Linked DNA regions of Homo sapiens: regions 1 and 3 are each linked to region 2. The links come from fine-mapping of genetic effects on gene expression. A gene starts in region 2. Each other region holds a variant in brackets. All regions are shown on one strand. Distances are from middle to middle.

Region 1 (2,750 bases), 160 kb after region 2:
GGCCCTCCTTCCTCAGCTCCCTCTGTGGGAGTAGGTGCATTCCTGGGCAATCTTCCCTCCATCTCTACCTCAGCTGTTCCCAAACTCTCGAAGTTTGTTCTGGGAGGTGTTAAAAGCAGTTTTCTAAGACAAAGGGTCCCAAGGAGAAGCCTCATTTCACATTAGCATATTAAAGGATCTGATAAATCCTGCAGATGGGAGACTTATTTTGTTTAACCCTCGGTTCCCCAGATGTGTTGAAACCCGAAACCCTCTTGGCTGAGGTCTGGCTAACCTCTTGCAGAGCTATTGCCTCAAAGTACACAGTTGTGGAACCCCGCCCAAACCTTCACCTACCCAGACTGCTGAGTAGCTCATTTGGACTCTCAGAGTCCAAAGCTGCTCACATTTCCAGTCCCCGAGGGTCTTGTTCTGTCCAGCCCAGGCCAAGAGGGAAGCTGTGCATCTGCCCGGTGCAGCCTTACACAGCAGTCCAGGCAGGGGCACCCCACACCCACACACACCTGACATCACCCTGGCCGCGGGTTCAAGGCAACTGACATCTCTCCTGGATCCCGAAAAGCAGGAGGTGGGAGGTCTGACCTGGGCCCTCTGCTTGGCTGTTTCCCCAGACACCAAACTTGGGCCTGAGGCCTTCTGGTTTAACTCCGGCAGAGAGGCCGTGGCCACCCAGCTGAGCGAGAGCTACTACATCCTCCGGCCAGAGGTGGTGGAGAGCTACATGTACCTGTGGCGACAGACCCACAACCCCATCTACAGGGAGTGGGGCTGGGAGGTGGTGCTGGTGAGTGGGCCCCAGGGATGGGCAGCAAGGTGCTAGATGCCCCTGAGAATTTACAGGCTGGGTGCTAGGTGCCCTGGCTTGGGCCTGGAGTGGAAGGCCAAGCCACGTTGACCTCTGACCACAGTTCAGAGTGCAAAGGGTCAAGGTGGTGGTTACAGAGCCAAGAGTCCCCAGCTGGGCAAAGTTGTCCTGAGACAGGACAGGCCAGACTTGTGAAGAGGGTTCTGAGTGCCCATATCCTTGGGGCCTGGGACCAGGCCTCAGCAAACTTAGAGGGTCAGAGGCTAGGCAGCTGCCTAGAGCACCACGCAGGCACCACGCGGCCACCGCTGTCCCAACAGACGCTTTCCTGATCTCGAAGCTGGGCAGCTCACCTCCACCTCCCTCCTCTTCCCACAGGCAGCCCAGCCTGAGGGACCCCCCCACCCTAGTCTCTACTGGCCCTTGAGGCCTACCCTGCCCTCAGCCTCCGGCCCCACACCTAGGTGGAAATTTAATGGCTGTCTTGGGGGAGGTGTCAAAGGCAGGTGTGGGGATTCCAGCAGGTTCCCTGGTGGATGCTGAGCCTTCTCTGCCCCTATCTCCCCCACCACCCCCGTGCCCATTCCGAGCATTGCACTCAGACGGGGTCCAGGGCATGCTCAGGTTTACTGGCCCTGTTAAGTCCACCTGCTTCCCCAGGACCATTGTTCTTGGCCTTCAAAGGCCAAGCGTCTTGTGCTCCTATGCCCAGTCCATAGACCCCCTCCGTGGGTAGAAATTGTATTTATCAGCCTATAGGCAACACGGC[A/G]AAACCCCATCTATACAGAAAAATACAAAAATTATCCAGGCATGGTGACGCACGCCTATAGTCCCAGCTGCTTGAGGGGCTGAGGCAAGAGGATTGCTCGAACTGCAGAGGTTGAAGCTGCAGAGTGAGCTCTGATCGCCCCACTGCCCTCCAGCCTGGGCGACAAAATGAGACCTTGTCTCAAGAAAAAAAAATGCATTTATATAGAAAGATGAATGGCTTGGCTCACTTGCCTCCAGCCCAGGGGCCATCTCTCCTGAGAATCCCTGGAGTACCAAGTCCGTCCCCAAATCCCAGCCCATGGCCATCACCCGTGGCTTCTCTTCACCTCTGCCTACCACTGTGGGTGAATCTGTAAGACCAGCCTAGTCCCCTGAAACACAAAGAGAAGCTTCCTCTAAGTTCAAACCAGGTGAAGAGCTCAGGACAGGCAGCCCATCGGGCCAGAGCTCTCAGAGGTGTGGGTGGAAGGAGTGTGGCCCCTCCAGCCTGGGGACAGGTGGCTAAACCCCGAAAGAATAATTTGACCTTCTGTTCCCACAAATGCCAGGAGTCCCCAGCCAAGGGGTGGGGGTGCTGTCTGCTTTCTTCTAGCTCCAGCCTGCCAGGCATGCACAAGTCTTGAGGGGCCTTTCCTGTCCCGTGTTAAGGCTGTTTTCCTCCTCCTCTTCCCCTTCCTCAGGCCTTGGAGAAATACTGTCGGACAGAAGCCGGTTTCTCTGGGATCCAAGACGTGTACAGTAGCACCCCCAACCACGACAACAAGCAGCAGAGCTTCTTTCTAGCGGAGACACTAAAGTGAGCAGTGTGGGCTCTTCCTAGGGATGGACAGGTGGGAGGTTGAGGGTAGGGGTCCGCAGTCCCTCCCCTCCACAGTCAGGTTCTGTGGTCACAGGACGGGAGCCCAAAAGGGGTGAAGGGCTTGGGATCCAGAGGGCTGCACCCCAGGTGTGAGCCTTGGGCCAGGCCGCTTTCTCGGAGAGTGAGACTGGGCTAGAATCCAAGTTCCCTAGGGACGCACCGTGTGATACCGCAGGTTCCTTCAGTTTCTCGCTTATCTCCCCAGGTTGCTTCCGTTCTGGGAACCGCGTCCTCGTGTGTAAAATGGGATAGGGTTAACGATGATGATGTCAGTGCTGGTTGCTGGCATTGACTTTCCCTCCTGTGGCCTCTGCA
Region 2 (2,750 bases):
GTTGCTTCACCCTGGGTTAGGTTTAACAGGAAGGGAAGATGCAGAGACTAAGTCCAAGGAGGAAGATGTGAGGGCCTTGGGGTTGAGGACACGCGTGTCTGGGAGTTGATGCCTGGCTGTTTTTGGAGGTTATCTGTTGCCTGAGTGTCTGTGGGTATGCGGGTGCACATGTCCATGTTTGTACTAATTTACATATATGTCTATGCATACTGTGGTATAATCACTTGGGTGTCCATACCCAAATTAAGTGTATGTTTGAGTGCATGTACACACCCACATGCCAGTCTCTGTGTGCATATAGATCTATGCCCAGACGCACACATGTGCATATAAACACACGTAGGCATCAAGGTAGACGTCCGTCACATTATGTGTGTGGTCTTCTGTAGACACGCCCGGGGCTCTCTTCCTTTCGCTGCTTCTCAAGGCTGCGGTCAGCCTCCCTCCGTGCTCCACCCAGGAGCCCTGGCCCCGTTTAGGGTTGTGGGAAAAGGAAGGCACGCCAGTGGTCTGCGAGGGGGCCAGTGGAAACATCACCTCCGCCGACCCGGCCGCGGTCACAGCTCTCTGGCTTGGCTCCAGCCACCAGCAGCACCCCTGCAGCCCGGCGTTAGCGCTGAGAAGCCCGGGGCAGCCGCCAGGGCGCGGGCTGCCAGCTCCCTGACAACCCCGGGCTGGCACTCGGGGGCGAGAGAGGTCACCCAGCGACGGGCACACCCCTCCAGAGCAACACCGTCTCCGGCCCGCTTCCGGGGGCCACCAACCCGAGCCTCGCGGGCGGGCTGGGGGGTGGTCTCTGTCGCTTGGGGTCCAGCGAAGGCTGGGCAGTAACCAATGGACGACTGTGGCCCAACGGGGATCCCTCGGATGCAGCCAATGCCCTCGTTGCGCTCTCCGCCCCCGCCCTCGCCTGCCCCGCGCCGCTGGACCATTGGCGCCCGCTGGATGGGGGGTGCGCGCGACGCCTGCCCTTCGGGGAGGGCGGGGCTTGGAGCGGGCTGCGCTCCCGCCCGCGCTCGGCCTCTGCCCCGCCCCCGGACGCGCGGCCCTCAGCCGGCTGCGGCGCGGCGGCGGCGGGAGGGGGCGCGGGGCGCGCGCGTGGGCGTGGCCGGCGGGCGTGGCCGGCGGGCGGCAGGAGGCGGGGCGGCGGGCGCTGTCGCAGTGAAAGCCCGAGCGGCGGCGGCGGCGGGGACGGCGGTGGAGGCGGCCGGGTGGCTGTGCGCGCGTGTGGGGCGCAGGCTCGGCGGCAGCGGCCGGTCTGGAGCGGCCGCTGCGAGGAAGACAGCTGCAGCGGGGGAGGCGCGGCCAGGGCTGCGCGCTCCGCGGAGCCGGCGGGGCCGGGAACAGGTGATCCCAGTGGGAGCCCCGCGCCCTGCCGAGTTCGAGGGGCGGGAGCCCGCGCTCCCGGGCGCATCTGCAGCCGCCCAGCCGCGGCTCCGGACCCAGGCATCCCTGCGCTGTCTGGGGCCCGGGGGAAGCCCCCTGCCCCCGCAGGCTCGGAAGTGCCTGCTCCTGCTCCCTGGCCACTCCGGCTCCCAGCTCCCGGCGCCCTCTCCGCGGCGGAGAAAGTTGTGGACGTGTCCCGATAGTCGAGCCCGGGCGCTGTCGCGACCGGGCCGGGTGTGCGCGCGCTCGGGGCGGCGCTGACACGCCAGCCCCCCATCGCCTCGGTCCCCTCCGGAAACTGCTTCTGAAGCTGAAACTTTGGGCGCCTACCAGCGCGGGCGGGAGCCTAGGGGGCGGAGGGCGGCTTGGTGCGGGCCTGCGGGCGCCCCTCGGCGCGGACAGCCGGGACGCCGCGGACGGCATGTGACGGTCCCGGCGGCCGCAGCGCGGGAAGGCGCGGGCCCCGGCGCGGCGGGGAGGGCTCGGCCGGAGGGGAGGCTGCGGCGCGCGGCCGGTCGCTGCGGGCCCGGGCCCCAAGCCGTGCCGCTCCGCTCGCCCGGGCCCCGCCGAGGCCGCTGCGCCCCCGCCTCCTCGCGGGAGGACTCGCTCCAAACTCCCTGAACTTCGGGGACAGTCCCCCGAAGCGGCGAAACTCTCAGGGTTGGCAACCCTGCCCAGGGACCCCCATCCCGGGCGGCGCTCCGGACGCCCTCCCCTCACCGCGCCCCCGCAGACACGTGCCTGGACTCCGAGGGCTTCTGGAGCCACCGGCCGGGCCACGATGCTCATGAGGAAAGTGCCCGGCTTCGTCCCGGCCTCCCCGTGGGGGCTGCGGCTGCCGCAGAAGTTCCTCTTCCTCCTCTTCCTCTCGGGCCTGGTCACCCTGTGCTTCGGGGCCCTCTTCCTGCTGCCCCACTCCTCTCGCCTCAAGCGCCTCTTCCTGGCCCCCCGGACCCAGCAGCCTGGTCTGGAAGTGGTGGCTGAAATCGCCGGCCATGCCCCGGCCCGCGAGCAGGAGCCGCCTCCCAACCCGGCCCCCGCCGCGCCGGCCCCGGGCGAGGATGACCCCAGCAGCTGGGCCAGTCCCCGCCGCAGGAAAGGGGGGCTGCGGCGCACCCGCCCCACTGGACCCCGCGAGGAGGCCACGGCGGCCCGGGGCAATAGCATCCCGGCCTCCAGGCCCGGGGACGAGGGCGTCCCTTTCCGCTTTGACTTCAACGCATTCCGGAGCCGTCTCCGCCACCCGGTCCTGGGAACGAGGGCCGATGAGAGTCAGGAGCCCCAGAGCCAAGTGCGAGCCCAGCGGGAGAAAATCAAGGAGGTATGGACTCAGCCCCCAAACTCCTCCCACCAACTGCCCCCTC
Region 3 (2,724 bases), 54 kb before region 2:
CCACTCCCAGAAGCTGAGCTGATTAACCCTGGACTGGAATGGCTGAGAGAGGAAGGTGTTGAGATGAATATGGGCTGGGGATAGGTCCTGGGTGGAATGAGGCCTGCACCTCAGGTGAATGTAATTCACCCAGCATTGTTGCCACCTCTGGGAGGCTTTGGCCTGCTCCCGAGGGCAGGGGTGTTCAGATTGATTCTTGCTTTTAGGGTGCACAAAGCTGGGGGAAACACAGGCAGGGGAGCCAGTGACACTTTCACATGCATAGTGCCAGAGGGAGGTGGGTGGGGCTCGAGGAGTCTGGGACTGGTGACAGGAGAGGTGGTGACATCTGAGTTGGGTTTGGAGGGGTGAGGGAGAGTTCCCCTGGGGTGAAGGGCCGAGGTGTGGCCCTTCCTTACAGGTGGGTTATAGCACTGACCGGTTTTGGTCCCCGGGCCTTCATTGACATCTTGCTCCTATCAGGAAATTGACAAGCCTTCTACTCTCTTTGTGGGATCCAGTTATGGTCCCAACCGGAACCTAACTTTCACCTCTCTGGCTGTGGCTCATTTGGGGCAATGGCTGGGCCCTTCCAATTCTGGCTTTTCTGTTCTCCAATTCCAAGGGCTAAGTCCACAGGTAATTAGGGAGGGTTTCTTGGAGGAAGTAAGCCTCACAGTTCATTGAATTCAGGGAAGCCCAAAGGGGAAGGAAAAGACCTGGAGAAGAACAGCCTTTGCAGGCAGGGGCCCTAGAGTGAGAGTGAGAACTTTGGTGGGGCCAGAGATAGTAAAGATGGGGACTCTACTGCCTCTGCGAGGCTATGGCCTTATGACACCCCAGGCTGCTTTGGAGACCTGGGAAGGGCCAGGACCCTGCTCTGCCCAGCAGGCATTCCAGAGCCTGGGATGGAGCTGCAGAAGCTGCAGGGAGGGAGCCAGGGGGCCTGGCCTGGAGGCCCCAGCCCTCCAGTGCAGACTTGCTCTGCCCTGGCTGACACTGCACCCCTCCCCATCCCCACTTCCTGTTTTCAGGCACAGGCTGTTACCCTCACCGTAGCCCAGGCCTTCAAAGTCGCCTTTGAGTTTTGGCAGGTGTCCAAGGAAGGTGAGACTTTGCATCTACATTGTGGGTGTGGTGGGAGGTGGGGAGACACATAAAGGCCCTGGGGTCAGACCTGGACCGACTTCCTGCCTCATCACCCACCTGGCTTGTGACTGTGAGCAGGTCCCTTCACCGCTCAGAGTCTCGGTTTTCCCATCTGAAAAATGGGAACAGCCGTCTCCCTCCCCAAAGGTGCTTGTGAGGATTAACTGACATCCGAAAGGTTTCTTTCCTCCCGGCTGGAAACCTGAAACTGCCCCTTGAGGTTGGCCACCGCTAATCACCCCTGCCCGGTGATTGCTGGGGACAGAGTGCTGGGGTCTGAGGCTCCAACATGTTGTGCCTTGGTCCTGCAGAGAAAGAGAAGAGGGACAAAGCCAGCCAAGAGGGAGGGGACGTCCTGGGGGCCCGCCAAGACTGCACCCCCTCCTTGAAGAGCTGTGAGTCCTGACGGGGAAGGGGGATTG[G/A]CCATGCGGTGTTGGGGTTGCGCTTCACCCAGGGGGGTCCCACTCCTGCCTGGGCTGGGAGAGCCTCTTGGTTTTTCACTTGTGTTTTGTTAAATAAATAATACACGTTCATTACAGATCAATTAGAAAATGTAGATAAGGGGAAGAAATAACTCATTTTAGTACATTTTCTTCTAGATATGTCCCTATGCAAATATATAAATATGCGTCTATCTTTCTATATACTTAACATAGTATTGTGTGGTTGCTTAAGAAAACTTAACTATTGTGAATACAAAAGTTTCAGTCTAAGCCATTAGTCAGGTTCTCACTCTGTGGGCAGCTGCGCATCTGCTGTGGGGAGGTGCCAGGGCCGGGCTCTGCTGGGAGGCCTGGGCAAGGCCACATCAGAGGGGAGGGTCAGGGCCAGGACAGCCCAGGGAGGGGGCCAGGAAGGAAGAGGCTGATCTCCCACTGACAACCTGACCGGATCCCTCACAGTGGTCGCCACTGGGAACCTGCTGGACTTAGAGGAGACAGCTAAGGCCCCGCTGTCCACGGTCAGCGCCAACACCACCAACATGGACGAGGTGCCGCGGCCACAAGCCTTGAGTGGCAGCAGTGTTGTCTGGGTGAGTGGTTGTGTGGCCAGCAGATCGGTGATCCTCAGCCTGACCTCTGGGTGAGCCTGGGGCTGCTCCAGGGACCAGGCCCTGGGACCCGTGACTTGTGGGCCTCTGGGAGGACCAGACCCAGCCCGGTAGTGCCCAGGCGCAGGATAGGGGATGAACAATGTCCCTTTTGAACCTGAGGCTGCATCCCCAACAGGCTTGGCTCCCAGCACAGCTGTCTCCTCACAATGCTTGGCCTCTTGGCCTGAGCGTCCACGGCTCTGCCCACCACAAGACCAGCCAAAGGCGCCCTTGTTCTTGGTGTGGCAGAGCTCGCTCCTACCACCCCTCCCCCTCAGCCGCCTGAATGAGGACCCAGAGACTTGGGCAGTCACCAGCTTGGTCCCTGACTCCCTCAGGGACTCAGGGCAAGCCCCCTGACCTCTCTGTCTCAGCTTTTTCATCTCAGTAAGGGTGATGACCTCTGCCAACGGAATCTCCCCGAGGAACCTGAAATTTAATTTTAATTTTTCATTTGGAAATAATTTCAGACTGTGTTACAAAATTAGTACAGAGAATTCCTG

Which allele goes with the higher level. Alleles are on the strand shown, and positions count from the first base shown. SD is a standard deviation of normalised expression in the study named. Not every link is listed here.
For the expression in cerebellar hemisphere of the gene that starts at base 1,161 in region 2, allele A in region 1 goes with a higher level than allele G (small effect, 0.26 SD a copy in GTEx).

What was found. PIP is the estimated chance that this variant, and not a neighbour inherited with it, causes the effect. A credible set is the group of variants that fine-mapping cannot tell apart.
Region 1: its variant is the best candidate, but not a certain one, in a credible set for the expression of MAN1C1 in cerebellar hemisphere (GTEx, PIP 0.85).
Region 3: its variant is the best candidate, but not a certain one, in a credible set for the expression of MAN1C1 in whole blood (TOPMed, PIP 0.65).

The regions. Positions count from the first base shown.
Region 1 is chr1:25,780,329-25,783,078 of GRCh38, forward strand. MAN1C1 (mannosidase alpha class 1C member 1) reads left to right here. Exons shown (of 12, transcript NM_020379.4): 10 at 612-784; 11 at 2,257-2,372. Among named protein-coding and RNA genes, the nearest start is that of SELENON, 18 kb to the right of the region's middle. RefSeq lists enhancers at 1-266, 267-889. The variant A/G (reference allele first, on the strand shown) is at 1,575.
Region 2 is chr1:25,615,631-25,618,380 of GRCh38, forward strand. It overlaps MAN1C1 (mannosidase alpha class 1C member 1), which reads left to right and starts at 1,161. Exons shown (of 12, transcript NM_020379.4): 1 at 1,161-2,707. The coding sequence starts at 2,168. RefSeq lists an enhancer at 427-596 and silencers at 787-1,076, 1,097-1,386.
Region 3 is chr1:25,561,631-25,564,354 of GRCh38, forward strand. LDLRAP1 (low density lipoprotein receptor adaptor protein 1) reads left to right here. Exons shown (of 9, transcript NM_015627.3): 5 at 1,014-1,086; 6 at 1,440-1,523; 7 at 2,031-2,161. Among named protein-coding and RNA genes, the nearest start is that of LDLRAP1, 19 kb to the left of the region's middle. RefSeq lists an enhancer at 1,614-2,241. The variant G/A (reference allele first, on the strand shown) is at 1,551.